Homo sapiens: one gene and its partners. The protein of the gene in region 1 interacts with the protein of each later gene in a biochemical or structural test. Each region holds a gene or a part of one and is shown in the gene's direction. Other genes may lie near its edges. The genes, in order: ZBTB16, HDAC5, VDR and HDAC4.

What was found.
Region 2: the proteins of ZBTB16 (region 1) and HDAC5 form a complex in vitro, tested with the Homo sapiens proteins (2 studies listed by BioGRID).
Region 3: the proteins of ZBTB16 (region 1) and VDR form a complex in vitro, tested with the Homo sapiens proteins (one study listed by BioGRID).
Region 4: the proteins of ZBTB16 (region 1) and HDAC4 form a complex in vitro, tested with the Homo sapiens proteins (2 studies listed by BioGRID).

Annotation. Positions count from the first base shown.
Region 1 is NC_000011.10:114,237,711-114,244,730, forward strand, and holds part of ZBTB16 (zinc finger and BTB domain-containing protein 16), read left to right. Parts: intron 1-4,456; coding exon 4,457-4,627; intron 4,628-7,020. UniProt on the Homo sapiens protein: Acts as a transcriptional repressor. Transcriptional repression may be mediated through recruitment of histone deacetylases to target promoters. May play a role in myeloid maturation and in the development and/or maintenance of other differentiated tissues.
Region 2 is NC_000017.11:44,120,628-44,128,519, reverse strand, and holds the start of HDAC5 (histone deacetylase 5), read left to right. Parts: upstream 1-4,878; 5' UTR 4,879-5,016; exon of another isoform or gene 5,017-5,266; intron 5,267-7,892. UniProt on the Homo sapiens protein: Responsible for the deacetylation of lysine residues on the N-terminal part of the core histones (H2A, H2B, H3 and H4).
Region 3 is NC_000012.12:47,901,988-47,909,579, reverse strand, and holds the start of VDR (vitamin D3 receptor), read left to right. Parts: upstream 1-4,585; 5' UTR 4,586-4,625; exon of another isoform or gene 4,626-4,949; coding exon of another isoform or gene 4,950-5,016; intron 5,017-7,592.
Region 4 is NC_000002.12:239,391,020-239,398,039, reverse strand, and holds part of HDAC4 (histone deacetylase 4), read left to right. Parts: intron 1-7,020. UniProt on the Homo sapiens protein: Responsible for the deacetylation of lysine residues on the N-terminal part of the core histones (H2A, H2B, H3 and H4).

The DNA of each region.
Region 1 (7,020 bases):
AGCTAGGCTGAAACGCCAGCAAATTGTTTAATAACTCACATCTAGTCTCTAGATTTTTAACTCGCATGCACCAATAGCTTTTCTTGTGTCTCATCCACATCTCCCCCACTTTTCCATTTTTTTAAAAATACTTTTCTATCATCATAGCTGTTAGTTTCTAAGCAGAAAAATGGGGAAAGTGGATGCTGAGTCTCAGAGGCTCCCCTTTCTTCCCCTGGGAGCCTTGGTTGGTGGATACGTGACCAAGGAGCACCCCTGCACCTTGTGGAATGTCCCAGGAAGGGGAGAGAGACCACTGTAGGGACATCATAGTGTTTCCTTTCCAGCTGGTGACCATATGACTTCCAGCCTGTTGGCCAGTTGTGGAACTGGCCATCTGGGATTTTTTGCGTGCCACTCCTCCCTTGCTGTCCCACCTTTCTAGGATTTTCTCTCTCCCTTTGCCCTGGCAGCCTCTGCCCTGGTCTGGTCCCTACCCTCCTCCAGTGGCCCATCAGCCCTCTCGCTGCTTCTAACCGCTTGCTGCTGCTGTTGGTCCCCATGTGTGCCCAGAGTCACTGGCTTCAAACACAGGTCAGATCGTGCTAGCACCACTCGTCTTAGTCAAGTCAGGCTGCTATAACAAACTGCCACGGACTGGGTGGCTTATACACAGCAGACATGCATTTCTCACAGCTCTGGAGGCTGGGAAGTCTGTGATTGGGGTGCCAGCATGTTCAGGTTCTGGTGAGGGTCCTCCTCCTGGTTGCAGACTGCTGATTTCTCGGTGTCCTCACGTGGTGGAAGGGGCTAGCTAGCTCTCTGGGCCCTCTTTTACAAGGACACTCATTCCATTTTAATTACCTAATTATCTCTCCCAGGCCCCACTTCCTAATACCATCACCTTAGGGGTTAGGATTTCAAAAAAGGAATCAGAGGGGGACCCAGACATTAGGATCATAGCAACCCTCGGTCCTTTCATGGCACTGCATTGCCTGTAGAATAAAGTCCAACCTGTCCTGCCTGGCATATGCAGCCCTCTGATCTGACTCCCATCACCCTCCCAGCTTGTCTCCATCCCCAGGGCCTGACCTTGGCCCCATCTGCTCTGACATTTGCCAGTGGTGTCTCTCTCCTTAGCCTGGCACATGTGTCCCAACTTCTTGTCCTTTGCTTCTCAGATACTCAACTTTTAAAAGCCTAACTCAAAATCTCAGGAGCTCTTGGAGTCGCCCTGCCTTACCCTCTGGGTGGTTGTTAACTCAGCATCTCCCACTAGTCTGGGACCCAGTTTCTCTGCTCAGCCTTAGCCTGCCCCTGGTCACCTAGCACAGTGCCTGTACTTGGTAGTGGCTCAGTGAGTTGGCTGAATGGACATGAAGTGGGTTCAGGCCACCCTGAGAAGTAGGGACAGCATAGTGGGGCAGTATCGAGGGGCCTTGGAAAGGCCAAGGGGGCAGAGTGCTGCAGTCTGCCTTGCTGGGTGTATTGACACTCAGAGCACCTGTGGGTCTGGCTGTATAGGCTGAGATGTCCTATTGGGAATGCCATTCATGTTCCCTCTGCCCAGGTTCCTTCCATGCCGGGGATCTCAGAGGATGCATAAGGAGAAGCCTTGGCTCTTAAAGGGCATGGCTGGCCTCCAAAGCCTACTCAACCCTACTGATTTAAGGTAGCTGTTTGAACACCTGGCTTAATTTGGGCTCTCTGTGGGGTGGGGGTTAAGGGCAGAGAGGGAGTAGATGCTGGGGGCTCTCAAGTTGAAGGAGTGGGGGCCACCGGGCACAGAACGCATTGCAGATGCACTGTCCTCCTGTGTACGTCGGCCAAGCAGGGAGGGACATTGAAGACTCACTGTCAACTCTTGGCATTGCTTCTGTCCAGAAAGATACATCTCTCATTATGTCTCCCTCCAGCAAGTGAAGCTGAGTAGACTACTCAGCATTTCTGAGAGACCTTGGTGGCTCCCAGTGGGATTGGAAGGCCTCAGAGAGCTATGCCTTGTGACCCAGCCCCAGCTACTGCCCACTCCTGGCCAGGGGTTCTCTAGCCATTGCTGGAGCTGTACTAGAGGCAGGAGTCCTCTGTACCATCCTTACTGGGCCTCTTCCAGGGTAAGCCCAGACAGGCGGGCAGTCAGCTCCAGAGGTAGCATTGAGTCCAGCCCCGTGGTTTCTGAAAGACAAACCGAGATATTTTCAGATCCCAACTCTGCCTCTTTCTGTGTGATCTTAGGCAAGTTATTTAATCTCTCTTTTACACTGGTAAAAAGGGGGATAAGAATGCCTGCCTTGTAGGATTGCAAGTTTTAAATGAACTGACAACATAGATAAGGTACCTAGCATAACGCCTAGATTCGCTCCCCTTCCTTCCTGCTTTTTGTTGGCCAGGAGCAAAATCCTGTGCTGGCTGTTTTTCTCCTTCCCTGCTCAGCCTTCCTGACTGCTGGTGAGATGGGGCGTGGCTCCAGGTGCTTAGACTTCAGTGTCTGCAAAGGGAAGGGATATCAGGGTGGGTGTGAGGGGCACAGAAGTGTGGGGGACAGTGAGAGGTGGGCCTTGCCTGCCTACTAGTCCATCCTAACCCAGCCATGAGTGGGACGGAGGTGGTGAGGACCAGACCTCTCACTTGCTATCTCCATTGATGGCCAGGAAGGCAGGGAGGTTCTTCGTGCCATCCCTTCTCTTCCCCCTACCTTCCACCAGACACTTCCCGATTCCATGCTGAGCAGCCCATGGCTTCCAGCAGCCAAAGCTTTACCCCCTCCCCCCACCCACTCTGGACTGGACTGACAGATGCTAGGCCTACTTACGTTTCCTGCTTGTGCCTTCCCACACAGGGGACAGCGGTGTGGGGCCAAGTGCAGGTGATATTGCCCAGGCACCAGCACAGAGACACACAGATGGGCCTGCCGGGGAGCTCCTGTGCTCAGGAAAACAGAGCCCAAAAGGGTGGGCACTGAGCTGCCAGTTAGGACTCAGACACAAGGTCAGATACTTCCTCCTGTGGTGCTGCAGCTGGAAATTTCGGCCATGGCTCCAGAGCAGTGTCAGAAAGGGATTGGTAACAAACAGAAAATGGCAGCCTGTATGTGTGGGGTACTTTGGGGATGAACAGCCAGTTAGAATTAAATGAAAATCTCACATCACTCGCTAGCTTTCAATCCTTTGACAGTTGCCCATCGGGTTTAGGATGGAACTAAATCTCTTGACGTGGTTTGCAAGACCCTGCATGGCCTGGCCCTTGCCTTTCCCTTTAGCCTCCTCTTCTTCCCCAGCTGCACTGCACCATTCCTCTGTCTGATCCTCCCACCGGCCATGTTTCCTCCTGGCCCAGAGTGTTCACAGACACTATTCCATCTTCCGGATTCCGCCATTCACCTGGTGTTCTGGGTAACGTCGGTCATGAGAGCAGGGACTTTGCATGCTCTTCCTTGGTTATATCCCCAGTGCCAAAAAGACAGCCTTGCTTGTAGAAGGCATCAAATAATACTTGTTGAGTGAATGGACCTAAGATTCATGCTTTAGTGAGTGGAGAAGTAGTTAAAAAAAAAAAACAAAACAGGATCTGTAGCTAGTCTTGGGAAAGCATTAAAATCTAGGGTGTGTGAGTGTGAACCCCAGCCCTGCCACTTACGAACTCTATGGCAGGAGTCCCCAACCCCCGGGCCATGGTCTGTGAGGAGCTGGGCTGCACAGCAGGAGGCGAGCGAGTGAAACTGAGCTCCGCCTCCTGTCATATTAGTGGCGACATTAGATTCTCACAGGAGCATGAACCCTATTGGGAACTGTGCATTCAAGGGATCCAGGCTGCACACTCCTTATGAGAGTCTAATGATAAATGTAATGTGCTTGAATCATCCCAAAGCCATCCCCCAACCATACGTGGAAAAATTGCCTTCCATGAAACCAGTCCCTTGTGCCAAAAATGTTGGGGACCACTGCTCTGTGGGATTTTGGCCAAAGTACTTAATCTCTCTGTGCCTCAGTCTCCTTGTCTAAGGGATGAGGATAACAGAGGCTAGCTTTTTGAGTTTTGGATTTATATTAGTTATGTTAGAACAATGGCTGGCCCATAGTATCTTTGTTATTGTTTTTTCTCGCAGGGTCTACCTTGCCTCCCCCACTTTTTGCCCTGTACTCTGTGAAGTCCATCTGGTATATGCTGTCTTAGTACCTTGCCGCCTTTTACATACCACCCGACACAGTTGCCCACTACCCTTGCTGCTGCGATGTATTTGATCAATGTCTATCCTTTAGCTTTAGCTTCCAGAGCTCGGGAACGACGTCGATTTTGCCCATCACTGGGGCCACATACTGGGTGCTCAGTGTTGCATAGCCTGGGCCCACTCTGGATTTGCCCCTGAGCATGGGGATTTGGAGGTGTGAGTCCCGACACTGGCTCTCACTCCAGATGGGTAAAGAATGCACCTTGTATTCCCACCTTTCTGAGGCACCCCCTCTCCTGTCTCCCACAGGCACTGACATGGCCGTCTTCTGTCTGCTGTGTGGGAAGCGCTTCCAGGCGCAGAGCGCACTGCAGCAGCACATGGAGGTCCACGCGGGCGTGCGCAGCTACATCTGCAGTGAGTGCAACCGCACCTTCCCCAGCCACACGGCTCTCAAACGCCACCTGCGCTCACATACAGGTAGGTCAGTCCAGCTGATGGGTGGATCTGGGTCTCTGGGAGCCAGCGTCTATATTTACCTCCAAGGACGTAAAGTGGAGGTGGTGGGCTGAGTCAGCCTTCAGTCCTTCTGCTCAAGGCTTGGACGTGCAGAGGCTGCCCGTCGTGCAGGTAAATGTGGACAGTTCTCCCAGTCCCCTCCTGTGGACCGTCGGTTCAAAGTCTTTCCGTGTTCAACACAGGATGCTCATTAAAAAGGCAGGCTCTTGGGTCCCACTCTCAGAACCTTTTATTCCATGGGTCCAGGGTGGGGTCCCAGATTCAGCATTATTAATATGTATTCCCAAGGGATTCTCATGTAGGTAGACCCAAAATGAATTTTGAGAAAAACTGACCTGCTGGGTCTCTTAACATTGTCTGCCCTGCCTCCCACCACTCTTGATGCCCCGCCGCTCTATCCATACACATTTCTGAAGTCAGCTTCGGGCTTCTGAGGGCAAGTTGAAGCAGTGATCCTACTTTCCCCACAGTAACAAAGGCCTGTACTTGGACCTTAACCCTGTTTAGGGAAGACAAGGAGGGCATTTAAACGATGAGCAATGAAATATCACTGCTCAGCCAGTTCCAGGTGATGGGACAAGGGAGGGGGTACAAGGTAAGGAGGCTGGGCCAGGTGCTGAGGGGCTGGCCATTCCCTGCCACCAGCCTCTAGGGCTTGAGGGATGGGGACACTTGGTCCCTGATGGCCAAGAGGCATTTGCTTTCCTGCAGCAGCTCCCAGTTTTCCCTAACAGGGGAGTGGATGGCTTAAATTCCTTATTTTCTCTATGACAAAACTGGGGCTCTGCTGAAACTACCTGGTTAAAGGAATGCCCATTTCTGAGTCTGCCTTTGTGTGCTGTGTTTGTAGGGAGGGTTGGGGTCAGGTCTCTATCTGGGTATATAACAGAGCGTATACTTGTAAAAACCTCTGCATGCCACGTAAAGGAACAGTAGGCCCTCTCCTCATTTTGAGAGTCTTGTCACAGCTCAGAGATTGAGTATGCAGACCAGGTCTTGCATGGGTGGCAGGCTCTGCTAAATAAGGGAAGAGCTTTACTTCTCATGGACTGAGCTGGCCTGGCCAGCCAGCAGCAGGTATCCTCATTAAGGAGCCTTCCTGGCTGTCACTTCTGGATGCCATTTTGTTCAGGGGAGCACATTGTCTTAGCATCACCAGATTTGCACAGAACTACTTAAAATTTCTGGGACAGGACGGAGGTAGGGCCCAGAGGGGTGGGCTCAATAAAAAGGGCCCAGGAGAGTGGGATGTTGACAAGGACTTTCTCTACAGCGATTGCGTAAGCATTTCCCCTGCAGCTATATGCACCTTCCTATGAACGCCTCCCTCAACAGTTCCCCAGGTTCATTCGGTCTTATGAAAGATGGCTAGATACCTTTCAGCCACTTCTGAGCATGCCACTGGGTCCAATCAGTTGGCTTCATGTGACTTGAATGATCTCAGTCCTGCTAAATCCACCCAGGATGTGCCCTGCTCTGACCATGCCACCTTCTCAGAGCTCAGATATGAAAATGTCACATGCTCTTGTGTCAGTCATGGCTCAGATCCACGGGGAGGGGCTGTTTCCAGAGTTAGGGAGAAGCCCTTGCTTATTCTAGGAAACACGGAGCATGTGTGCTGCCTATGCACACACAGAGAAACACCCATCAATTTTCACACCAGCGAGGCACTGCGCACACAAGCCATATACAGGCTGTGCACACCCCACACACAATGCCTCATTAATATTCCGTTGTTCTTGGCCCATTTGCTGCTGGGGCCGGGTGTTTAGCATCAGCAGCTGTGTTTGGTAGGTTAGTCCAGCCGTGCTCTTGGCATTGATGGATCCCTGATTCACACGGCTCATCATATAATAAACTCTCAGCTGTGCTGAAGGGAGGGGCTGGAAGGGAGGGGCCTGAGGAGCCAGCAGGATGGGGCTGGGGTGGGGAGGACGACAGACACTGGGCTTGGCCAGTGCCAGAGAAAGCACCAAGTAAGGACAGATTGGGGGGGGCGGGGTCACAGGTGCACTGGGCAGGCTGGAGGGGGCTCTAATTAGTCTCGTTTGTCCTGCACTTAATGTCAAGCTCATTAAAGAGGCTACAGAGTTAATCAACATACCACAAATTGGATTTTGAGTTCTGCAGCCAGTTTTGTGTACATTATGGCCACACTGACACAATCAGCTCTCAGGGTGAAGATTTCACGCCAGGTGCACACCGTGCTTCCAAATCGGGATGGGGATACGTGTGTGTTGGTGACTTTTTCTTTCTTTTTTTTTTGTTGTTGTTTGTTTTTCCTTCTAAGTTCTTTTTATTCTTTTCCCTGGGCAGACTCAAGAATTTCCTATTTAAACTCATTTAACATGTGC
Region 2 (7,892 bases), on another chromosome or scaffold:
AGGGATCAGATTACGTAGAAACTTTGGGTGTTTCTTTTTTTTTTTTTCCCCCAAATATGAGGAAAGGACCAGCTGCAGTAAAATCCCCTGAAGTGGCCAGGAGTGGTGGCTCACTCCTGTAATCCCAGCATTTTGAGAGGCTGAGATGGGCGGATCACTTGAGCCCAGGAGTATAAGACTAGCCTAGGCCGGGCACAGTGGCTCATGCCTGTAATCCCAGCACTTTGGGAGGCCGAGGCGGGTGGATCATGAGGTCAAGAGATCGAGACCATCCTGGCCAACATGGTGAAACCCCGTCTCTACCAAAGAAATACAAAAATTAGCTGGGTGTGGTGGCACGCTCCTGTAGTCCCAGCTACTCGGGAGGCTGAGGCAGGAGAATTGCTTGAACCCGGGAGGCAGAGGTTGCAATGAGCCGAGATCGCACCACTGCACTCCAGCCTGGGGAATAGAGCGAGACAAAAAAAAAAAAAAAAAGGCTGGGTGCGGTGGCTCACGCCTGTAATCCCAGCACTTTGGGAGGCTGAGGTGGGCAGATCATGGGGTCAGGAGATCAAGACCATCCTGGCTAAGATGGTGAAACCCCGTCTCTACTAAAAATACAAAAAAAATTAGCCGGGTGTGGGGGCGGGCGCCTGTAGTCCCAGCTACTCGGGAGACTGAGGCAGGAGAATGGCATGAACCCGGGAGGTGGAGCTTGCAGTGAGCTGCGATTACACCACTGCACTCCAGCCTAAGCGACAGAGCAACTCTGTCTCAAAAAAAAAAAAAAAAAAAAAAAAAAAGACTAGCCTTAGCGGCCGAGCACAGTGGCTCATGCCTGTAATCCCAGCACTTTGGGAGGCTGAGGCAGGTGGATCACGAGGTCAGGAGTTTGAGACCAAACTGAGCAACATGGTGAAACCCTGTCTCTACTGAAAATACAGAAATTAGCCGGGCGTGTTGGCCTGCACCTGTAATCCCAGCTACTCTGGAGGCTGAGGCAGGAGAATCGCTTGAACCCTGGAGGCAGAAGTTGCAGTGAGCCGCGGTCATGCCACTGCACTCCAGCCTGTGTGACAGAATGAGACTGCGTCTCAAAAAAAAAAAAAAAAAAAAAAAAGACTAGCCTGGGCAACACAGGGAAACCCCATCTCTACAAAAAATACAAAAATTAGCTGAGTGTGGTGACATGCACCTATGGTCCCAGCTACTTGGAGGCTGAGGCAGGACGATCGCTGGAGCCTGGGAAATCGAGGCTGCAGTGAGCTGTGATGGCGCCACTGCACTCCAGCCTTGGTGACATGGCGAGACCCTGCAAAAAAAAAAAAAAAATTAGCTGGATGTAGTGGCACGCACCTGTAGTGCTAGCTACTTGGTAGGCTGAGTTGGGAGGATCACTTGAGCCCAGGAGTTCAAGGTTATAGTGAGCTATGACTGTGCCACTGCACTGTAGCCTGGGAGATACAATGACTCTGTCTCAAAATAAATAAATAAGTAAGACAAAGTAAAGACAAACATTCTGGTATTTATTCTTCTAGGCTTTTTTTGTTTCAGTTTTCTTTTTTTTTTTTTTTAGACTGAGTCTCTCTCTGTCACCAGGCTGGAGTGCAGTGGTGTGATCTCAGCTCACTGCAACCTCCACCTCCTGGGTTCAAGCGATTCTCCTGCCTCAGCCTCCCGAGTAGCTGGGACTACAAGGCATGTGCCACCACGCCCAGCTAATTTTTTGTATTTTTAGTACAGATGGGGTTTCACCCTATTAGCCAGGGTGGTCTCGATCTCCTGACCTTGTGATCCGCCCGCCTCGGCCTCCCAAAGTGTTGGGATTACAGGCATGAGCCACCGCGCCCAGTCCTCCTTTTTTTTTTTTTTTTTAGAGATGGGGTCTCCATATGTAGCCCAGGCTGGGCTTGAACTCCTGAGGTCAATGAATCCTCCCTTTTCAGCCTCCCAAGTAGGTAGGACTACAGGTGTGTGCCACCATTCCACCATGTCTGGTTAGGCTTTTTTTTTTTTTGAGACAGGATCTCACTTTGTCACCCAGGCTGGGTGCAGTGGTGTGTTCTTAGTTAGCTCACCTCTCCGGCTCAAGCTATCCTCTCACCTCAGCCCCCCAGCGTGAGCACAGGTCTGGCCCTTGGCCAGGCTTTTTGATATACACATATACTCAGGCATATGAATCTAGTTTGTTGTTTTTATAATAATGGAACAATTCAGTAATACTTGTTTGAGTCCTGATTTTCAAGAAAACAATATATCACGGGCATCTTTTCAGGTCGGTATAGACCTATAAAATTTTTTTTCTTCTTTTTTATTTTTTATTTATTTATTTATTTTTTGAGACGGAGTCTGGCTCTGTCGCCCAGGCTGGAGTGCAGTGGTGCTATCGCAGCTCACTGCAACCTCTGCCTCCCAGGTTCACGCCATTCTCCTGCCTCAGCCTCCCGAGTAGCTGGGACTACAGGGGTCCGCCACCACGCCCGGCTAATTTTTTTTGTATTTTTAGTAGAGACGGGGTTTCACCATGTTAGCCAGGATGGTCTCGATCTCCTGACCTTGTGATCCGCCCACCTCGACCTCCCAAAGTGCTGGGATTACAGGCGTGAGCCACCGCGCCCAGCCTATTTTTATTTTTTTTTTTGAGACGGAATCTCGCTCTGTCACCCGCCCAGGCTGGAGTGCAATAGCCCGATCTCGGCTCGCTGCAACCTCCGCCTCTCGGTTTCAAGTGATTGTTTCGTCTCAGCCTCCTGAGAAGCTGGGATTACAGAAGTGCACCACCACGCCCGCCTAATTTTTGAATTTTTAGTAAAGACGGGGTTTCACCATTTTGGTCAGGCTCGTCTCGAACTCCAGACCTCGTGATCCGCCCGCCTCGGCCTCCCAAAGTGCTGGGATTACAGGCATGAGCCACTGCGCCCGGCTATTTTTTTATTTTTTTTGAGACGGAGTCTCACACTGTTGCCCAGGCTGGAGTGCAGTGGCGTGATCTCGGCTCACTGCAACCTCTGCCTCCAGGGTTCACGCCATTCTCCTGCCTCAGCCTCCCGAGTAGCTGGGACTACAGGCGCCCGCCACTACACCCGGCTAATTTTTTTTTGTATTTTTAGTAGAGAGGGTTTCGCCGTGTTAGCCTGGATGGTCTCGATCTCCTGACCTTGTGATCAGCCCGCCTCGCCCTCCCAAAGTGCTGGGATTACAGGCGTGAGCCACCGCGCCTGGCCTCTTCTTCTTCTTTTGTTTTTGTTTTTTGTTTTTTTGAGACGGAGTCTCGCTTTGTTCCCCAAGCTGGAGTGCAGTGGCGCGATCTCTGCTCACTGCAACCTCCGCCTCCCGGGTTCACTCCATTCTCCTGCCTCAGCCTCCCAAGTAGCTGGGACTACAGGCGCCCACCACCACGCCCGGCTAATTTTTTGTATTTTTAGTAGAGACGGGTTTCACTGTGTTAGCCAGGGTGGTCTCGACATCCTGACCTCGTGATCCACCAGCCTCGACCTCCCAAAGTGCTGGGATTACGGGCGTGAGCCACCATGCCCGGCCCACGCCCGGCCTCTTTTTTAAAATACAGACAGTGTCTCGCCATGTTACCCAGGCTGGTCTTGAACTGGGCTCAAGCAATCCTCCCGCCTCGGCCTCCAAAGTGCTAGGATTGATGACAGGCAAGAGCCAATGCACCTGGCCCCTTTAAAACTTTTTTTTTTGAGGCAGAGTTTCACTCTTGTTGCCCAGGCTGGAGTGCAATGGCACGATCTTGGCTCACTGCAACCTCCGCCTCTCAGGTTCAAGGGATTCTACTGCCTCAGCCTCCTGAGTAGGTGGGATTACAGGCGCCTGCCACCACGCCCGGCTAATTTTTTTGTATTTTTAGTAGAGACGGGGTTTTACCATAATGGCCAGGCTGGTCTCAAACTCTTGACCTCAGGTTATCCGCCTGCCTCCGCCTCCCAAAGTGCGGGGATTACAGGCGTGAGCCACCATGCCCGGTCCCCTATAAAACTTTTAATGTCTGGATAATATTTTACTGAATGAATGTCTCCTGCTTTGCTTGCCAATTCCCTATCGATGGATATTTAGGTTGTTTTCAACTTTTCACATCATTACAAACAATCTCATGTTCATTTTTTAACATAACAACGTTTATTTATTTGGAATACATTTTTGTTAGTGGAATTGCTGGGTCATTGACAAATTGTCTAGGTCTAATTAAACATGTTCATACTGTGTACCAAGAGGAGATGTAGCGTGGATGGCACCAAAGTCAGGGAAGTCTTTCCGGCTCCTGGTCTGCTGGTCTGCCCTTTTGAAGGCCTTGGAGTGTTACAGCCATACCCTGGCCTTTCCCAGGCTTTTCTTTCCCTGGCACGGATGCAGTGTGTGCGGTCAGAGCTGGCGAGTTCGAGACTTGTCCGAACCATCCACCCGCAGCCAGGCCCCGCTGCAGAGGCTGCGGTGGCCCTCCCAGCCCCTGGGAATCTATCCCCAGGTCCCCTCCCCGACCGCGGGAGGGCGTGTTAGGGGAGCAGCTTAGGCAAGCGACGATTGCACCATCCACGTTTTGAAAAGAAAGTCCGGGGAGCGCAAGGAGGAAACTTTTACAATCCAAAGGTTGAGCCCCAGCATCCATACTCGGCCCCTGCAGCGATCCTTCCACTCCTGCTCGCTGGGTTCCGATCCCTTCCCTTCCACCCCGTCTCGGCCGAACCCTGTGCTGGGCACTGGCCCTTTAAGGAGCTGTCACGATGGCGTCGCTGGCCCCGCCCGGCGGGGAGGGCCGAGAGGCAGGGGAGGGGTTGGTGGTGGCTGCGGGCAAGGGGAAGGCGGGGGGGGCTGGGGGGGGGGTCTGGGTCTATTTTTAGCTCCGGGTCGGGTCACGTGACGGGAGTGACGTCTCCGAATGTTGTTGTTGGTGGCGGCGGCGAGCGGAGCCGGAGGAGCCGCCGCAAAGATGGAGGAGCCGTCGAGGAGGTGCTGCCGCCGCTGCCGCCGCCGCTGCTGCCGCCGCCGCCCGCGAAGCCGGAGCTCGAGCCGCAGCGGGTGAGCGCGCCGCCCCGGCCCAGATCCCATCTTCCCCGGACCCCGGGACGCGAGGCGGCGCCCCCTCCTCCTGCTGTCTCTGTCCGCGGGCTCCCAGCGCGCGCGCCGCGCTCCGCGCCCCCCTTCCTTCCTCCCGGCCCTGGGAGCCAGCCGGCGCCCCCCGGGAGCATCGGCAGCCCGTGAGCGGGACATCGGGGTTGCTGCGCGCGCCCCTCCCTGCCCCTCCCAGACAGGGGCGCCTTCCCTACAGGTAAGGGAGGGGCCCGCCTTCTCGCGCCCTGCGCCCCCAAATGGCTCGGAGACCGGCCGGGGTTGTCTGATTTGCCCCTTCCCTGGCGGCGCATGTTGCGTTGCAGAGCCATTTGAGCCCTGCACCCGGATTCTGTGCAGACCCCTCTTCGCTGGACACCCCTTTCTTGGTACTCTGAGGTGAGGGGTGCTGTCCACCCAGAGCGCTTCTCCCCATAGCTACGAACGCATCCTTGATTTTATGTCCTTGACTTCCGTGCATGAGGAGGGGGACTGCGGAGTCCACCTTACTTCTCTCTCCCATTATTCTCACCCCGTCTCCTGTGAGGCGTTACTGCGTTTGTTGCCACCCTCTTCTCCTGTCTGACACCTTGGAGCCAGGATGCGAGAGCTAGGAGATGAAATGGAGCTCCCCCCCAACCCCTTCTTGTCTTGGGTGGATGCCCCCCATTTTTCATCCTGGATCTGTATCTCATGGAAGCGGGGGCACTACCAGTGCCTTATTAACTTGGGGGGAGTCAGCTTCTCCACCCCACCCTTCCCTGGGGCCCTGGGGAAGATGAGAACTGGCTGGGTGTAAGTAATTAATCTGGGAGCTTGGTGGGGGCTGTTGAAGTGGGGAGGTTGGGTGCTTCCTTTGGGAGAGGAGATGACCACTTGATACCCCTGGCTGATACCCCTTCTGAAATGAGGTGTGTCCCTAAAGAGGAAAGGTAACAGCTGCAGTTGCTTTTAGGAGGGTGCAAAAGGGACCCATCACTCAGTCAGTGACCACCATGCTTTTGGGATCTGGGATTAGATTTGGAGCTTGGGGAGGTGGTGGTGATTGGTTTCAGTGTCCAACTGGGAGGGGAGGATGGAGCCAGATTATGGGAACAAAAGGAGGTGGGGGGGAGGGTGAGATCCAGGAGTCTTGGTCAGAGGGACCCCTAGCCAGATTGCCTTGCAGGATTGCAGTCTGGGTCTGGGTCCTGCCTTTGGCTTCCTCTTAGTTTCAGAGGATGTAGGCAGGCAGGCATGGTCTTCAGTCTCCCCAGTCCTAGGCACCCTGAGCCTATGCTGGCTGTTGAGATGCTGGGCTGGGCTGGGCTGGGCTAGGCTGGCTGGGCTGGATGGTGGATGAGCCATGTTGGGGGCTGCCTGCTTCTTCATTCCAGTCTTCCCTCCTTCCTCTCCCTCCCTAAACACAAAGCTTGGGGAGATCTTGGTTTGTCTCCTTCCTCTTTTCTTGACTCCTCTCTTTGCCCTCTCTTCACTTGAACTTGGATCTGGGCTTTCTTGACAAAGCAGTAGGGGTCTCTCTGAGTTAGAGAAATGGGCCCCCAGTATCTCCACTCTGTCCTGGGAATGTGGGCATGCCAGAGACCAGAGAGACAGATCTCAAGTGTGGGTTACTTGGGGGCAAGGATGGAGGAAATGTTAGTTCTGTGCCAGCCTCCCCTTCTTTTCCAATATATCCTCCTACTTTGGCTGGATCATGTAATTTGGAGGGGGGCAGCAGTTTCACATGCCCCACCCACCCCAAGTAGCTGCAGAGACAAAGGTTTGCTTTGCCTTCCGTAGGGGTGGCATCTTAATTGTGTGTTTAGAAATGGGGCCTGGGAATGTTGGGCGGGGGTCATTTGTGTTCCCGCATAGTGGGGGAGGGGGCATCAGCTATAGGAGCTGGGGGTAGTGCAGTCGGTGCTGAAGTACCAGCTGCTCTTTAATAATTAATTCTTCCTACTCACATCCCTTTGAGGAGGGATGTCTGGAACACAGCATTAGGCTCAGCCAGCCTGCTAGAGGACGCACTCCTGTTGGTGGCAGTAGGGGGGGGAAGGGGGAGACAGCAAGGGGGGGTGGTTCTTGGCATTTTTGGAGCACTGTAGCTTGCTCATGAATGAAAACCTGATGTAGCCCGTGAGGGGGCCTATTGTAGCCGACTTTAGCTAATTAAACTTTCTCTGCCTTTCTTCTTCCCTATCCCACCTCACCCCAGGCCCAGCCGCAGCCCTTTCTTGAATGGGGACCCTGCCTGGTAGTGCTGGGAAGAGGGTATCATTCTGCCTGAGGTTTTAGGGCAAACAGACCCCGTCTTCTGCCCTCTGCCTCCGCCTCCTCCCTTCCTCCCCTCTCACCACCCCCCTCTCTTTTTTTTTTTTTTTTTTTTTCTAGAAATAGCAGCCTCCTCCATCTGGCTTGTGCAGATGCCTGGAGCTGCGTCTGAGCAGACAAACAGAAATGGGCCGATTGCAAAAATGAATTTGTCAGCCTGGTGCCTTTTTTCCTTCCCTGTCACCCTCCCCCTTTCCCTGGTTTGGGGCCTGGACATCCAAGTCAGCCACCCTTCATGGCTCTGATCCTTCTGGGCTTCTGTTGGCCTAGCTTGGGGGAGGCACTAGGCAACAGAAGCTCTCAGAGGCTGAGGAAAGTGGTAGGCTGTGGCCATGGTCAGGAGGGGTCAAGATAAATTCCTAGTGCCTTTGACCTTTGGGTGGGATGTCTTGGCTTGTAACTTTTTTTTTTTTTTTGAGATGGAGATTCACTCTTATTGCCCAGGCGGGAGTGCGATGACACAATCTTGGCTCACCGCACCTCTGTCTCCAGGGTTCGAGTGATTCTCCTGCCTCAGCCTCCCGAGTAGC
Region 3 (7,592 bases), on another chromosome or scaffold:
TTGATGGTCTCGCAAATGTATTTCTGTGAATCTCATGTTCCAGATTCTAAATGAGGGGGTCCTATGGTGAGAGGGACTTGTTCTGTCATTCAGAAAGGCAAGATTCCATCAACTCCCTGGATGGAGTCTTCTGTCAGTTGGCTACTCAAACAATAAAGTCCGCCTAGCCCATGATCTAGGGCAGGATTTTTTTTTTTTTTTTTTTTTGAGACAGGGTCTCACTCTGCCTCCCAGGCCTCAAGCATAGTGGCATGATCATAGCTCACTGCAGCCTTGACCTCCTAGGCTCAAGCGATCCTCCCACTTCAGCCTCTCAAGCAGCTTGGACTACAAGCGCACACCACAATGCCTGGATAATTTTTAAATTTTTTGTAGAGATAGGGTCTCACTATGTTGTCCAGGCTGGTCTCAAACTCCTGGCCTCAAAGTAATCCTTCCACCTCAACTTCCTAAAGTACTGGGATTACAGGCCTGAGCCACTGTGTAGGGTAGGATTTTTAATACTGTATTTTGGGTCACAACCCATTAATGGGCTGTGAAATAAATTTGGTGGATCCCAAAAGGAAAGGAAGGAAGGAAAGAAGGAAGGAAAAGAAAGGAAAGGAAGGAAGGAAGGAAGGGAAAAGCAAGGAAAGAAAGAAAGGAAGGAAGGCAGGAAGGAAGGAAGAAAGAAAGAGAGAAAGGAAGAAAAAGGAATGAAAGAGGGAAGGAGGGAGGGAGGAAGGAAGGAAAAGAGGATAGAGAAAATAATAGAAAACATTGTAGAACATCTTTTGTATCAGGAACTTATATATATTCCTGAGTAAACTAGGTCACAGTAAAAACTTATTTCTTATTATGGGTTGCAGTTAAAATTTTGAAAAATACTGTCCTGGGAAGACCCCTTGGTTTGCTTTCATTGCTACAGCTTCTTACATTTATTCATTCTATTTTTACCATCTGGAACATAAATAAGGAGAGTCATCCCTGATCCTTTTTGTCTTAACTTGGGTTAGGAAATATAAATGAATTAATCTTTCTGAACTTAACGTGTGTTTTTTAAAAAATCTCTAAAACAAGGGAACAAACTGAAAAGATGGCCTGGTCCCTTCTGTCTTTCTAACTCCACGCTCATGTCTCTCAGAATGTTCTCTGGGTGTTTACTGAAGAGAGGCTTCTCTTCAGTCCTACCGTGCTCATAACCATAAAATATTTAAGGGGGGAAAATGGCCCTAAAAAAGGGAAAAACAAACAGTCAGATGGGAGTGTTCCAGAGAGAGCTCAAAGGGCACATTTTTACCTGCAGAGCAGCCTTTAGACAGCTCAAAAAACCTCTGTCCATGGGGACAGGGTCTCTGGGAGACTCACAGGGACAAAGTGACCCACTCTAGCTCTGACACCACAGCAAGAAGTGCAGAGAGCATCAGCCAGCCTCGAGGACAGTGGCCAGGCTGCAGAAAAAGGAAGCCCAGAGATGAGGACAGGCTGCAGTCCTGTGGCCTGACTGTAGCCACAACTGCCCAGGCCATCCCCAGGTGCCTGGAGCCTGGCAGAGAGGTCAAGAGACCAGGCCCTGCCTTTCTTTGGACTCTGTGGAATGAAATGCACAGGAATGAAATGAATGAAACGAAATCCTCAGCCTAGTACCTCTGGAATCTTTCCATCAAAGTCAGATGCACCGGGAAGGGCTCTTTTGTTTCTATATAGATTTTTGAGTCTATAGCACTATAGCAGAGTATCTAGCACACCACCAGACTTGGCTAATATTAACCAAGCAAGTGCTTACGAGATATTCCCTGATGTAATTTGGCAGAGATGAGTACTGACAAAAAACAATCTGTACATCCCAATAAAGACCACTACCCATCCCAGGGATAAGTGAGAATATGAGAAATGTTAACTTCAGGGAAAAGAAAAATTAATGTCTTCTGCAGAGGTTCTGGTACCTGGTTTATGGAGAAGTCAAGATAGGGGAATTTAAAACTATTAACTCTGTAGTGCAGGAATGGTGCTTGTCATCGAGGCATCAAGAGAACACGGTGTGGGACAGCAACCTCCCTTTCCAGTTGTGTACCTGGCTAGGGAGAAGTAGGGTCCAGAGACAATTAGGGATTACAACAGAACACAGGAGAAGTGAATCTCATATGATGTTGCTTTTCTACTTTCACAAAATAACCTTCCTTCTAAGAATAAAACAGGCAAAAAAAAATCTATCTTTGTTCAATGTAAATACAAGATGGTTCATTAGCAGGTGCCAAACCATGCAATATAGAAAATGCATGCGCTACAAAGACCAGAGAATTGACAGTTCCTTTCCTGGAGATGTTGGAAAAGCCTGATGGAATAGGCAGGACCTGAAAGAGGAGAGGGTCTGGAGAGGTGGATGAGAGAGAACAGTTCAGGTATTGGGGGAATATGGGAAGAACATGGTTACAGACAAGGTGACGGGGCTGATGACGGCATGTGCTGGGGACCGTGATGACATCTATAATCTTGCCCATCTGCCAAACGCAGAACCTCTGAGTTCTTCAACTCTGTGAAAAGTGCATGCATGGAAATTTTTTTTTTGTTTTTTAGAGGCAGCATGAAACAGTGGGATGTGCAGAGAGAAGATCTGGGTCCAGTAGCTCTGACACTCCTCAGCTGTAGAAACCTTGACAACTCTGCACATCAGTTGTACAATGGAACGGTATTTTTTACTCTTCATGTCTGAAAAGGCTATGATAAAGATCAAGTAAGATATTCCAAAGAATTTTTAAATTATAAAGCAGTTTACACATGTGAATTACAAGTACCTCTCCTCCAACAAAGGCTGTGAAAAAAGACTAACTCTCAGTTACTACGGAATACTTAGTACGCATCTTCCACCATCTTTTGATAAGGTTTATTTGCAAGATGTCAGGCCAGTCAAGCACCACAAAAGTGACTTCTGAGTGTTCAACCTCTTTCAGAGGCTCATGGGACTTGCAGAGAATGTCCCAAGGTATTGGTGGTTGGAAATTTCCTCTTATGCTTTTCTTCCCACAAGAATCACCGCTAGCTTTCCCACGATGCTTTGGGCAAGGGGATCCTTCCTATTACTTTCATTACAGGTAGAGAATCCATCCATCAGACTGGCAGGACCTCTAAAGGGGCACTTCATCTGTTTCTCAGAATAAATGGTCCATTCCCAAGTTCAATCAAACGCTATGCCTCTCTTCTGTCTTTTGTTTAAGTCTTCCCAGAAAGTTGCCATGATACCTCCATAATGAACTGTTGCAGTGCTTAACAAACTTCACTGTTGGAAGGTTCTTCCTTCTATTTAATCTCAGTCTATTTCTTTTAACCCTATTATTGAGTTGTGAGGGGCTGGTTATGATGTAGTCCAGCATAGCTGTCTCAGAAATGGTTCAGAGACCATTGCACCAGCAGATTTGCTGGGCTCTAGCACTAGTCCTTCATTGATTAGCTGAGTCATGTTGGGCATATCACTTAAACTTTCTATGCCTCAATTTCCCACCCTTTCACCTTGTCCCTCTGAGCCATGGTTTCCTCCTCTGTAAGAGGCGAATAGCAATATCTTCCCTGGCTAAAGGAGGTCATCGACTGCTGGATGATTTTGTGAGCATTTCTATTCCAGAAGATTATGTTGTAATTACTATTTATTTATACATTCTCCCACTGCACAGTGAGTTCTAAGAAGAGGGAACCCCATCTTTTTCACCTGTCCTCTAGCAGATAGAGCGGTGCCTATCACACAGTCAAGGGAAGCAGAGAATAACTTTAAGCCAAAATTTCCTGTGGTGAGTTTTCCGCAGCCATCCACAATTCCAGGTCTCAGGAGGTAGTCTTTATCTTTTCCCCTCACGCCGATGCCACGGGGCGGGGGGGGAAGGCGGAACTCGGGACCAGGGACCAGGGAAGCTGAGACTCAGCTCCCTTGGGTGAGATTCGCGACAGGCCGGGAACGTGGTCAGCCGCGGTCGCTGCCAAGGTGATATCGGGTGGGAGCAATGACGCAACTCCGGTTTCCACTTCGGCCCCCCGGGATATTTTACCCTAATCTGTGGGATCAGGCTGAGCTTCCTGGCGTTCTGCAGCAGTAACAGGTTGGCGAGCGGAGCCCGGGATTTCCCATTCGTGCGGAGCTAGCCGCCGGTGCCAGTCGGCAGGCGCCCCCCAGCGTCCCGCGGACGACGAAGTCCTGGCCTGGTCAGCCCAGGTGGGGGTGACGCACCTGGCTCAGGCGTCCGCAGCAGGCTGGGTAGAACCACGGCAGGAAGGGTGGGGGGCTGCATCCCCGATTAACACAGGCTGAAGCGGGTATCCGCACCTATAATCATCGACAACTCTGTCCCACAGAGGGCAGAAGCGTGCCTTGCCCTATGGACGACGGTCGATGAAAATTTCACGAGTTAGAGTATCTAAGGCTACAGCGTGGCCTATAGGGTGGTTGATTCCAAGTCAAGATGGTTGCAGCGCCAACGGAGCTCCTGGCAAGAGAGGACTGGACCTGTGGGCGGGGCGGAGGGGCGGGGCGGGGCCGGGGCGGGGCCTGACCGAGAGGCGGGGCCAGGTGCTGGGCTGTCTCTGCTTGTCAAAAGGCGGCAGCGGAGCCGTGTGCGCCGGGAGCGCGGAACAGCTTGTCCACCCGCCGGCCGGACCAGGTGCGAACCCGGGAGCAGCGGGAAAGGGGGTCTCAGGATAGGGACTCGGGGTCGGGGCGTCTGGGATACCGGGGCCTGAGCGCCCGGCTGCGAGCATTAGAGTCTAAGTCTCAGCGGTAAACTTGGCTACTGAGGTCCGGGCTGTCGTGCCATGAGGCTGGGACACTAAGGGGCACTGAGGTTTGAGAAAGCTGAAGTTCGTGCCAGGCTGGCGAGGGGAGCAGCGACATCCTCGGCGCTTAGGAGAAATGCTCCGCTAACACAGTGCTTAGCACTTGGGCAACAAGAAGTATTTGTTTCCTTCTTCTGTCGGGGCGCCTTGGCATGGAGTGGAGGAATAAGAAAAGGAGCGATTGGCTGTCGATGGTGCTCAGAACTGCTGGAGTGGAGGGTGTGTAACCTTATTTATTGTCTTACAGGGCCCAGGTATGGTCACCTGTGATGGTGGAGTTGGGTCTTTTAAGTAATTTTTTTTTTTTTTTTTTTTTTTTTACTTTTCTTTGAACTACCAATGAGTTTAGACCTAATTGGCCCTATTTTTTTTCAGGACAGCCTGTCAATAGATGTTCAGAGGAACTCAGGGGCAAGCATTTAAATGAGGAAGGGGCTCAAGGAGTAGTTTCTGTTTGAAAAGTGAGGTGCCCTGGATCTGTGGGTGGTGGTGAGGAAGATTCAGAAGTATCTAGGAGGGAACAGCCTGTGGTCTCCAGGGCCAGTGTACAACTGCCCCTCCTTCTCTTCACCCAGGGACCAGAGTCTGAGACCTAGCCTGGGCTGGGGGAGCCTTAGGTCTCCAAGCCCAGACCCTTCTCACAGTTCCTCCTCCTTCTCCTCCTCCTCCTCCTCCTCCTCTTGTTCCTCCTCCTCCTCTATGCGTGCGGTGAGTGAGTCAGCCTCCTGTCTGGGCTCAGTTGCAGCCAAAGGGGCCAGAGCCCAGGCAAGCAGTTGGGCAGGCATTTTCTGAGCATTGCAGAAGCTCTCCTGGGCAGAGTTCAGCTCTGCTCCAGCTCCCTGCTGGAAGGTGGTCTTCCTCATGGGCAGGGGCTCAGATACCCAACACAGCAGTGCTTATGGAATGGCTATGAGATGATTCTAGCAGGAGGTGACCGTGAAGGGATAGTGGCTTTATGATAAATCTACATCTCATCTTTCTCCTGGGATAAGGAGGTGCATCCCAGCACTGCAGGCTTTTCCAGCCCTTCCTTCCATTTCTGCCTAGTGGTCTCATTAGCAGCCCATCTCTGCTAGTGAAGGGGGTGAGCAAAAGAAATTAGGAAAGTCTGGGGCCAGAGAAGTCATGGTGTTGGCAAAGAAGGCTTTAACTCAGGCTAGGGAGTGAGGGTGATTTGCTGAGGTAGAAATGGGTTATCTGAACATTGGAGCCTCAATTCTATGGACTAAGAGTGTTGTGTGTTGAGAGACCTGCCGTCCCTTCCCTGTCCAAGTGCTGGAGGGAACTGTGAGTCTTTCTGAAACAGTCTCAGGGCTGGCATGCAGCCAGACCAGAAGGTAGTAAGACTGCACATTTCTCCCTGGCTTTTGTTTTGGGTGCTAGAGATCGTTGAACAGAAGTAGCCCTCCCTGCAGAGTCCGTGGCCCCCACTCAGCAGCCTCTCTGGACCTATTTGAGAAGAGTCCTGGGAGGCCAATCCAGCTGTGGGGCTGACTCAAACTGCAAAAAGCTGGGGAATTCACAGTCTATGCTCTGGCTGGGTCCCATGGCTTTGGGTTTGGCTGGTCTTGATCAGCTGTGACTTGGACCCTTACCAAGCTAAAGGAGGGACTAGAAAATGGGGTAAGAAAGGAGGGGAAAAAATGAGAGTTAGAAAGCCTTCCCAACCCTTTACTCCTCTTCGGCAGAGGCCATCAGACTTTGTTTGTATAAACATTATGGAAGGTCGGGTGCTGTTTGGGGTGCCCTGATAGTTTGTGTTTATGGTTTCTCAGTATTCTTCCCCTATTTGACCTCAAAACTGATCTCTTTTGTAACTAAGCCCCAGAGGAAGCTCCGAGAGGACCTCCTGAACCCCTACACTCTACCCCCAGAACAGATAGCAGGTGTCCAAAGCCCAGGCTGTGAATGGAGAAAGGCCTGGGACCGAGTGGGCTACATCAGGTGGCTACTACATCAGGTGGTTATCTAAGACACGAAAGGGAGTTCCCATTGTTTCATTCCTTACCCCACATCCTAAGGAGGCACCGCTGTCCTGGCTGGAATAGGCATCTGGAACCTCTGCTAGAAACTCGCTGTTGCCTGTGCAGCAGTCAGGTCCTAGGGGCCAGAGAGCCAGAGACGGGAGGACCACCTAGATGACATTTGGTGTGTTGCTGAATAAAGAATTACAGGGCTCCAGCTTCCATTTGTCCCTGCTGCAATTCTGTTTTGGATGCAGGTAGAGGGAAATAAGGAATTGACCAGATTTGATTAAGAGCCTCTTGTGTGCCCAGCATGACTCCAGGCCCTCTGAGGGATAGCAGGAAGCAGAACCCACCAGACCAGGCCCCTGACTCCAAGACAGTTTGAGCCCCAGGGTGGGCAGCAGTTCTCAGGCTCTCCCTCCACTATTGTCCAGTTCTGAGAGGATCCAGCTGGGCTGAAGCCAGCCTGGCTGCCACTCTGGGCCACCAAGGCCTTGCTTGTCATTTTGCTTCCCTCTGATTTGTCCCTAACCTTTTCCTGTGTCAGTGCCCTCCTAGATATGCTAGAAAGAGTGCCTGTGTAATGTATCTTGCAAACTGGGATACTTCTGAGAGTGAAAGGGGATGCCATGCATGGTTATACCAGGACAATGGACATAAACCCAAACTTTCCAGGGAAAAATGGAATATTAATCACCCTAGTGATCATCACTCCAAACTCAGCAGAGGTCACAGCAGTGATGAGGGGATGATAAGGTTGGGGGAGGCTTAATGCTCAAGGGAAAACAGGGGTAGCTTAATTCTGAGGACAGCCCCCGACACCCTAGC
Region 4 (7,020 bases), on another chromosome or scaffold:
CCTAAGCTTGGGGCTGTGGAACCGAGACTGAGCCCCTGCCCTGTTGTTGGCAGCCCCCAGTCTGTCCTGGGGTAAGGAGTCGGAAAGGATGGATTTGGAGGGAGTGTTTGTTTTGATTTCAGGTGGTCAGCATATGCCCTGCCGTGTGGTGGGCTCTGGGTTTTTGGCCTTGACGTTAGAGGCGGGTACTGCACCTTCTGGTTCAGGTCAGATGAGGGGTGCCATGTCAAAAGTGATGCTACCTTTGAACAGACCTTAACTCATTCATAAGCGTTTCTGTGGGAACAAGTGTCACTAAGGTCAGTAAGTTCTCTTCATACGGTCAGTTTTCTTCTCTTGGGCTTCTGTGCGTGGGAAGAGTGGGACCTGTTTTGGGGTGGCATGAGGGCCATGGTGCCTGCAGCATTAAATGGCCATGTCCCCTTGCTGCAGCCTCACTGACAAACCTCCTACTCACTTCCTAGAAGGAGGGTCAGGGTCCTACATGTCCCCTTGCTGTGGCCTTGCTGACACACCTCCTACTCACTTCCTGGAAGGAAGGTCGGGGTCCTGCATAGATTGCCCCCACCGTGACTTCCTGTATCACTGTCGGGGGATGAGGATGTATCCTGGAGCAAGGAGATGATGCCACGAGCAGCTGTCACGTGCTCCCGTAGCTGACGCCAGATGAGCACCTGCTTGGGGCTCGTGCTGTTTCATGCACTCACCATGTAGGTGTCAGCACAGTCCTGCAGGTGGGCTCTACCTCTGGAGGAACTGGGGGTAGAATGAAATGGACCATGTGCCACCCCCTGCATCTCCAGTCCCAAAGGCCAGTTCCTCTCCGTGCCTCTGCTTCTAGGCTGGTGGTGACCTTGAAGCTGAAGTTCAGCTTGTCGAGGTGCTTGGGCGAACACAGCCTCTTAGAGAAGAGGACGATTTGGAATACCTTTCTAGTTCAGTGTCGTTAGACTTTCTAGTGCTGTGTTGACTGTTCTTGGCGCTGTTACAGGCGCGTTTCATAGGTCTGGGCAGTACTTCTGGCTTTCTCATGCTGTCTTATGTCACGTGTGGGACTGCAGAACTAGAAGACATCATGTTCTTCTCCTGCAAAGTCCCCAGGACGCCTGGAGGCAGGTGGGGGTGACGGAAGGGAGCTAATGCTCCAAGTCCACTTCAGCCGGAGCAGCTTTTAGTGTTTGTTGTTCGGTCTGTTGATTACCTTGGAAGATTTTATTGGAAGAAAGCATTTGAGGACCAAGTTAATCTACTCTTTCAATACCAACCCAGAAACCTTAAAGAAAATCTTGACAGATTTAATAGGATAAGAGTTTTTTAAAAAATCTCTTTGGCAAAAGACTCCGTCAGCCGGGCTAAGAGACGAGAGAGAAAATACATACCACATTATGCCTGTGTAAGCTTAACAGTCAATATATAAAGAGCTTTTACAGACCAATAAGGAGAGCATGAGATCACCATTGCAAGATGAGCAGAACGTATGAACATTGAATCATTGTGCCAGTGATGAAAGGTTAGCATTACTAATCAATTCAGTGTGAAGGAGATTCCCTTTATGCCTATCATATTGGCGAGTTTGATGATACCTGTTGCTGGTCATAATAATAATTTCTATTTTGTAAGGTTTTTGCAAAGTTTAAGTTAATGTATGGAAATTTCCTTGAATAGGGCCTGGCATGTAGTAAGCATGATATAAATGTTGGCTGTTATTTATTATCATTTGCTCTCTGGAGAGACCCATATGTATTATTATATAAAATATAATAGGGCTGGGCGAGGTACCTTATGCCTGTAATCCCAGAACTTTGGGAGGCCAAGGTGAGAGGATCACTTGAGCCCAGGAGTTCAAGACCAGCCTGGGCAACATAGTGAGACCCTCATCTCTACAAAAAAAAAAAAAAAATCAGGCATGACGTCGTGTGCCTGTAGTCCCCATTACTTGGGAGGCTGTGGCAGGAGAATCACGTGAGCCTGGAAAGTCAAGGTTGCAGTGAGGTGTGATTTTGCCACTGCACTTCAGCCTGAGTGACACAGCGAGACCCTGGGCTGTCCCCCCCAAAAAAGTTTATATATGTAATGTATAAACATAAAATAGTGATTACCGAATTGCTCTCTAGAAAAGTCTTAAGTGTCAAAATCTTAAATGCCATTCTCCTTGTCCCCACAGTTCTACATTTTGAAATCTATTCTAAGGAAAGAAGATAAGTGTGTAGATATCCAGACGTGTGTGGAGGTCGGGGCTGCATTATTTATAAAAGGAGTACTTGTTAAACCTGCTGGCATTTCTGCACTGTGGCATCCTCCATGTGTAGACAGGCAGAAGTGTGCAGTGTAAGAGGGAAAGGCGGGGTCTGGAGCAGTCCCCGGGCCACTCCTGGTTTTAAGTACATGGGTCTCTAAGGTAACCATCAGAGGTGAGGAGACGGGGTACACTTTTCTTTTATACATGGTGGTATTGTAGAGATTCTTTTGGTAAGCGTGTATTACTTTTTTACAGTAGTAATTTGAAAACATTTAGATATCTTCATTGGAAAGAAAAGTACTCTTTAAGTCCTTGGCAAGTTGATAAATATGCTTTGCAATAGAAGAATTTAGGGGCATTTGTTTTTCTAACTCACATGTAAGCTCTTCAAGGTGGGGACTGACCCTCGGGGTCTGAGCGGGCTCTGCTACAGCCCATCCTACAAACAGTCTCCCAGGTTTCCACCAGAAGCAGGTTTGTACCTCTCATTCCCTTGCTTGAAACCCTGGCATGACTTTCCTGTATTCTTAGGATCCTAAGGTCTCAGGGCCCTGGAAGGCCTGCCTGATCCTGGCCTCTGTTTTACCAGCCTCATCTGATAGCACTTGCTGTGTTTGTGGAGTTTCAGCTGCCACCTGCTTTACTTTCTAGCTCTCTCTAAGTCCCCTTTGACCTCGGGGCCTTTGCACACACTGTTCCCCTTCCTTGGAATGGCCTCCCTTTACCTTCCTCTTCTCCAGCCCCTCAGTTCATGCTCATCCTCTCATCCTTTGATCCCCTGTTAAACTTAGCCTAATAGCTTTTTTCCTCCTTTCTAACAGCATCCCATTGTGCAATTTCAGGAAGGAGCTCATTGTGACCTTAGTTGTTTAATGCCACCTTTTCTACTAGCTGGGGCTCTGTAGGATTGAGGGGCCCTGAGGGCCTCATGCCTGCTCTGTACCCTGTGCTTGGCAGTGTAGGTGCTCGAAGAATGAAAGAAAATGAATGAGTGAATGAATGAATGGATGAGTAGGTAGCCCAGTGAATGGCACAATGCGGGCCTTGGGTGGGAGAGCTGGGGTGAGGCCCCACCTCTGGCCTGGCCCCTCTGCGGGGTTCTTGCCAGTGCTCTGGAATTGCCTGTTTCCTGACACCCCCTGCCCCCATCTGGGAACTTCTTGGTCCTGATTTTGGAGATTACATGCTCCTAAGGAGATGTCATAAATGCAAGTGGAGGGAATTCTGTGATGCAGAAAGGAATGGGAGGGAGAAGGGCCTTCAACACAGCTGTCGAGTGGCAAATGCGACTGTTGTGCCAAGGCCAAGGCAGGTGTGTGCAGCTTGTTCTCCAGCCGCTTCGCCCAGGGCCCCGGCGTGTGAGGAGGCGAGTGGTGCTTTTATGAAGAAGTTTTTCTCTGCTTGTTTTAAATTAGAATTAATGACATTATTTAATCACTTCTTATTTAGCGTCATAATTTTAATATGATACATTAATATGTTTGTGTACATAAACATTTTGGAGTCTGCTCTGTTTAAAAATGTGAGTGTTGGGCTTTGTGAGTTTACTGTTGTTTATGAAGTACTCCGTCTGTGTGAGTCAAGTGCTTTTGCTGGATTGATGTTTAAGCTTGAAACAATAAATCAGTTCTTAGGACCTGAAAGTCTGAACCAGCATTCCAAGTGGGAGTATTGTTCAAGCGGTGATGGAATTGCATTTTCCCTTGGGAATGGCCCATCATCTGGTTTATGTGTTGCTATTTGCTGGAGCGGTTCTTTTTTAAACTGAGGAAGAGAAGTTTCTGTGGTATCTCCACTGGCCTCCCTGGTGGTGGGGTTGGGGGTGGAGGGGGGGTGGTCCTTGGGGGCCATGTTCCCTGAATATTTCTAATTGATTAGTTATTATTTTGCAAATACTCATTTTACACCCCAGCCCAAGTACTAGGTTTTACATGAGATGAGACTCAGTTGAACACATTCTCTGTGCCAGACGCAGTGGCCAGCCCCATGACCCCAGGCTTGATCAGGAAAACTGGCCTCTGCCCACAAGAGGCTTTGGTGTTGGTAGGGACAGAGGAGAAAAAGGAGCTAAACAGGCAGGTGCACACGGGTCACCATCCTGAGAACCAGGGCTGTGGCTGGAGGGCTTGCTTGGTAGGGAGAGCCGTGGTGCAGGAGCCAGGCCCAGATGAGGAGGAGGAAGGGGAGGCTGGGTGGGTGGGAATGGGGTGTGGTCCTTTTTAGCCAGAGCCAGAGTTTCGGGGCTGCATTGTGAAAAGGGCATTGTGGCCAGATGGTGGCCTGGTGACTGAGGTCTCTGAGGCCAGAGTGCGTGAGCCAGTGATGAGCCGGGCCAACTGGCAGGCTGCCTGGGTGGGGTGGAGGTGTGGTCTGCACAAAGGACTTCCTTGCGTTTTCATGTATGTGTAGTCTTCTTGCATTTAATGGAGAGTTTGCTTCTGTTCTTTCTATTTTGTGCACTGGTGCCTGGCTCCAGCTGGGTGATGGACCTGATCTCTCTTGTTCTAACTTTGTGGAGGCAGGCCCATTCAGATGCATCCCAAGGAGGCCTCCAGGTGGTCCATGGCGCGGCTAGGCCCTCCTTGGGGCACATGCTTGGTGGTGCTGTTGTGGGGACTTCTGCATGAAAAGCAAGGGCAGCTTCCAAAACAAGGGCAAGGTGAAGAAGGTGGCTCACACGCCGGGGGTCCCAGTCCTGTGGCTCTGAGACGGGCCGCATCCAGAAGGGAGGGGGTTCCTTCCTTCTAGCAGTGCTGGCGAGAGCTTCCTCTGTGCCTAGGTCCAGGATTCTGTAGAGTAGCTGTCAGGACTGAAGCCTGCCAGGAGTCTGTGTAGAAACCGTGCTGGAGGGGACCCGCTGGGGGACCCGAGCTGGCACCCCCAGTGCCACCGGTTTACACACCAGAATTCCGGGTCTGAGGCTGAGCCCAGCCTGGCCCATCTGCAGGGGCCTTGCTGGCTGGCACCGTGCCATGTAAGTCAAGTGGCAGAAAGTGGGCCCCCAGCAGGTCAGCAGAGCGTGGCCAAGGGCCCCTGAGCCTCAGTCCTCCCTGTGGCCTGGGGCTAATCCCAGCTGGCTATTGAGGACTTACCCACCCCCAGGACTCATGTCCGAGCCCCGTAAGCTCAGGGGTTAGAGTGTTCTAAGGAGGCTGACCCCCATTCCACCTCTGGGGGCTGTGGACAAGGAGGGGAAGATGGCCTGTGGGTCCACACAAGCGGGGTGTATCTTAATTAGTGATGCCAACTGTGCCTCCTTGCTTGCAGGATGTGGGTGGCCCTCTGACCTTTTGGACCTTTAAAGTGAGCCATAAAGAAAACCATTGGGAGGTTCTGGCATATTAAAACCCCCTCTACTATAAAATTTACATCAGATTTTGCACTGAAAAAATCCTCATAGGTGGTCACAGTCCCCATTCTTTGGAGAACACTTGTTTGCCAGCTCAAGGGCTCTGTGTTGGAATCCGCCCCTTGGCTCTCCAGGTCAGAAGGATGCATCAAAGGAGATGTCACTGGGGTGCCTGTGTCTTCTCGCCTTTCGAGTGCCTGCCCTGAAGCAGCTTGCTTTCCTTTGCCCCTGAGTGTGCAGCACAGCCCAGCGTAGCTCGGTTGCTGGCTGGGGCAGCAGCTGACCTGCAGAGCCGTTACGTGCATGCCCGCTGCCATCCGAGGGTAGCAGCCGGGCTGGGCCATCCCACCCCTGCCCGGCATGGTGGCCCGGGCAGGATGGGGCCTGGTGTGGGAGCATCCAACTCACCTCCCAAGCTGGTGGGGATGTTGACCTTTTGGGCTTCGGAGTTCACAACCAACCATGTGCAGTGCTTCCCGCGGTCCCTCCCTGAAGAAGAGTGTCTTTCCATGTCAGCGTGCCAGCTTCAGCACACGCGGGCTGCGTTCTGACGAAGTTCTGTTTTCAGAATTCTTCTGGTTAAGCGGAGGCCAGAGCTGAGGCACGTGGGAGCTGCGGAGGGCCTCTTCTCTTGTTTCACGTATCCTTCTCCTGGTTCCTCGGTGCTCTCGTGGGTGTGGGGTGAAGGGTCTGATTGGTGGATGTGCTCTCTCCTGCTCGTCACACTGCCAATGTGCCTGCAGTGGACAAGAGTGATTTGCAGTGATGTCCTGTGTTCCATGGCTCTGGGGTGTTGAGTGAGCATCGGTTGAGATCCCAGCTTCACTGTCATGACCCCATCACCTCAGTGAGTCCTTTGTCATCTGCTGAGTGAGTGTCTCTCCCGCAGAGACTCAGCTTTCCTCTTCCTCCTCCCCCGCTGGCTCTGAGGACACACAGCCCTCTCTGCTGGCAGGTCTTGGGAGGAATGAGGAGTAGGGTATGTCCCCTGCCCGGGGCCTGCTGCTGACCGGGCCTTGGATGCACCTGCAGGACTTTCTGAAGCTCCTGCACCTGCTCAGGGTGTCTCTGCAGCAGGTCGTGGTGTGGTGGACGTCTCCCCGAAGGACCTTAGTACAGTTTGAGAACAAGCTCTCGTCTGCCTTTGTCCTTGCAGGGACTGTGTCATAGTTTACAGAGATTAGACTCTTGAAAGCTCAGAAGCACCGTGATGCTTCCCACGGACACTGTCAGCCCCCAGGGCATGCTGCGCTTGTTAGGGACCTGAAGGGCCAGCGTCCCTACCCGGTATGCAGAGCCCGGCTCGTGATGGTGGCTCAGCTGCTATGGCATGTCCAGATTGCGCCTTGGCCACAGTGTGATTCGTATCGAGGCCGAGCCGAGGCCCCTGGCCCTGAGGATGACTCGAGCGGTCTGATGGACACTGTGCCAC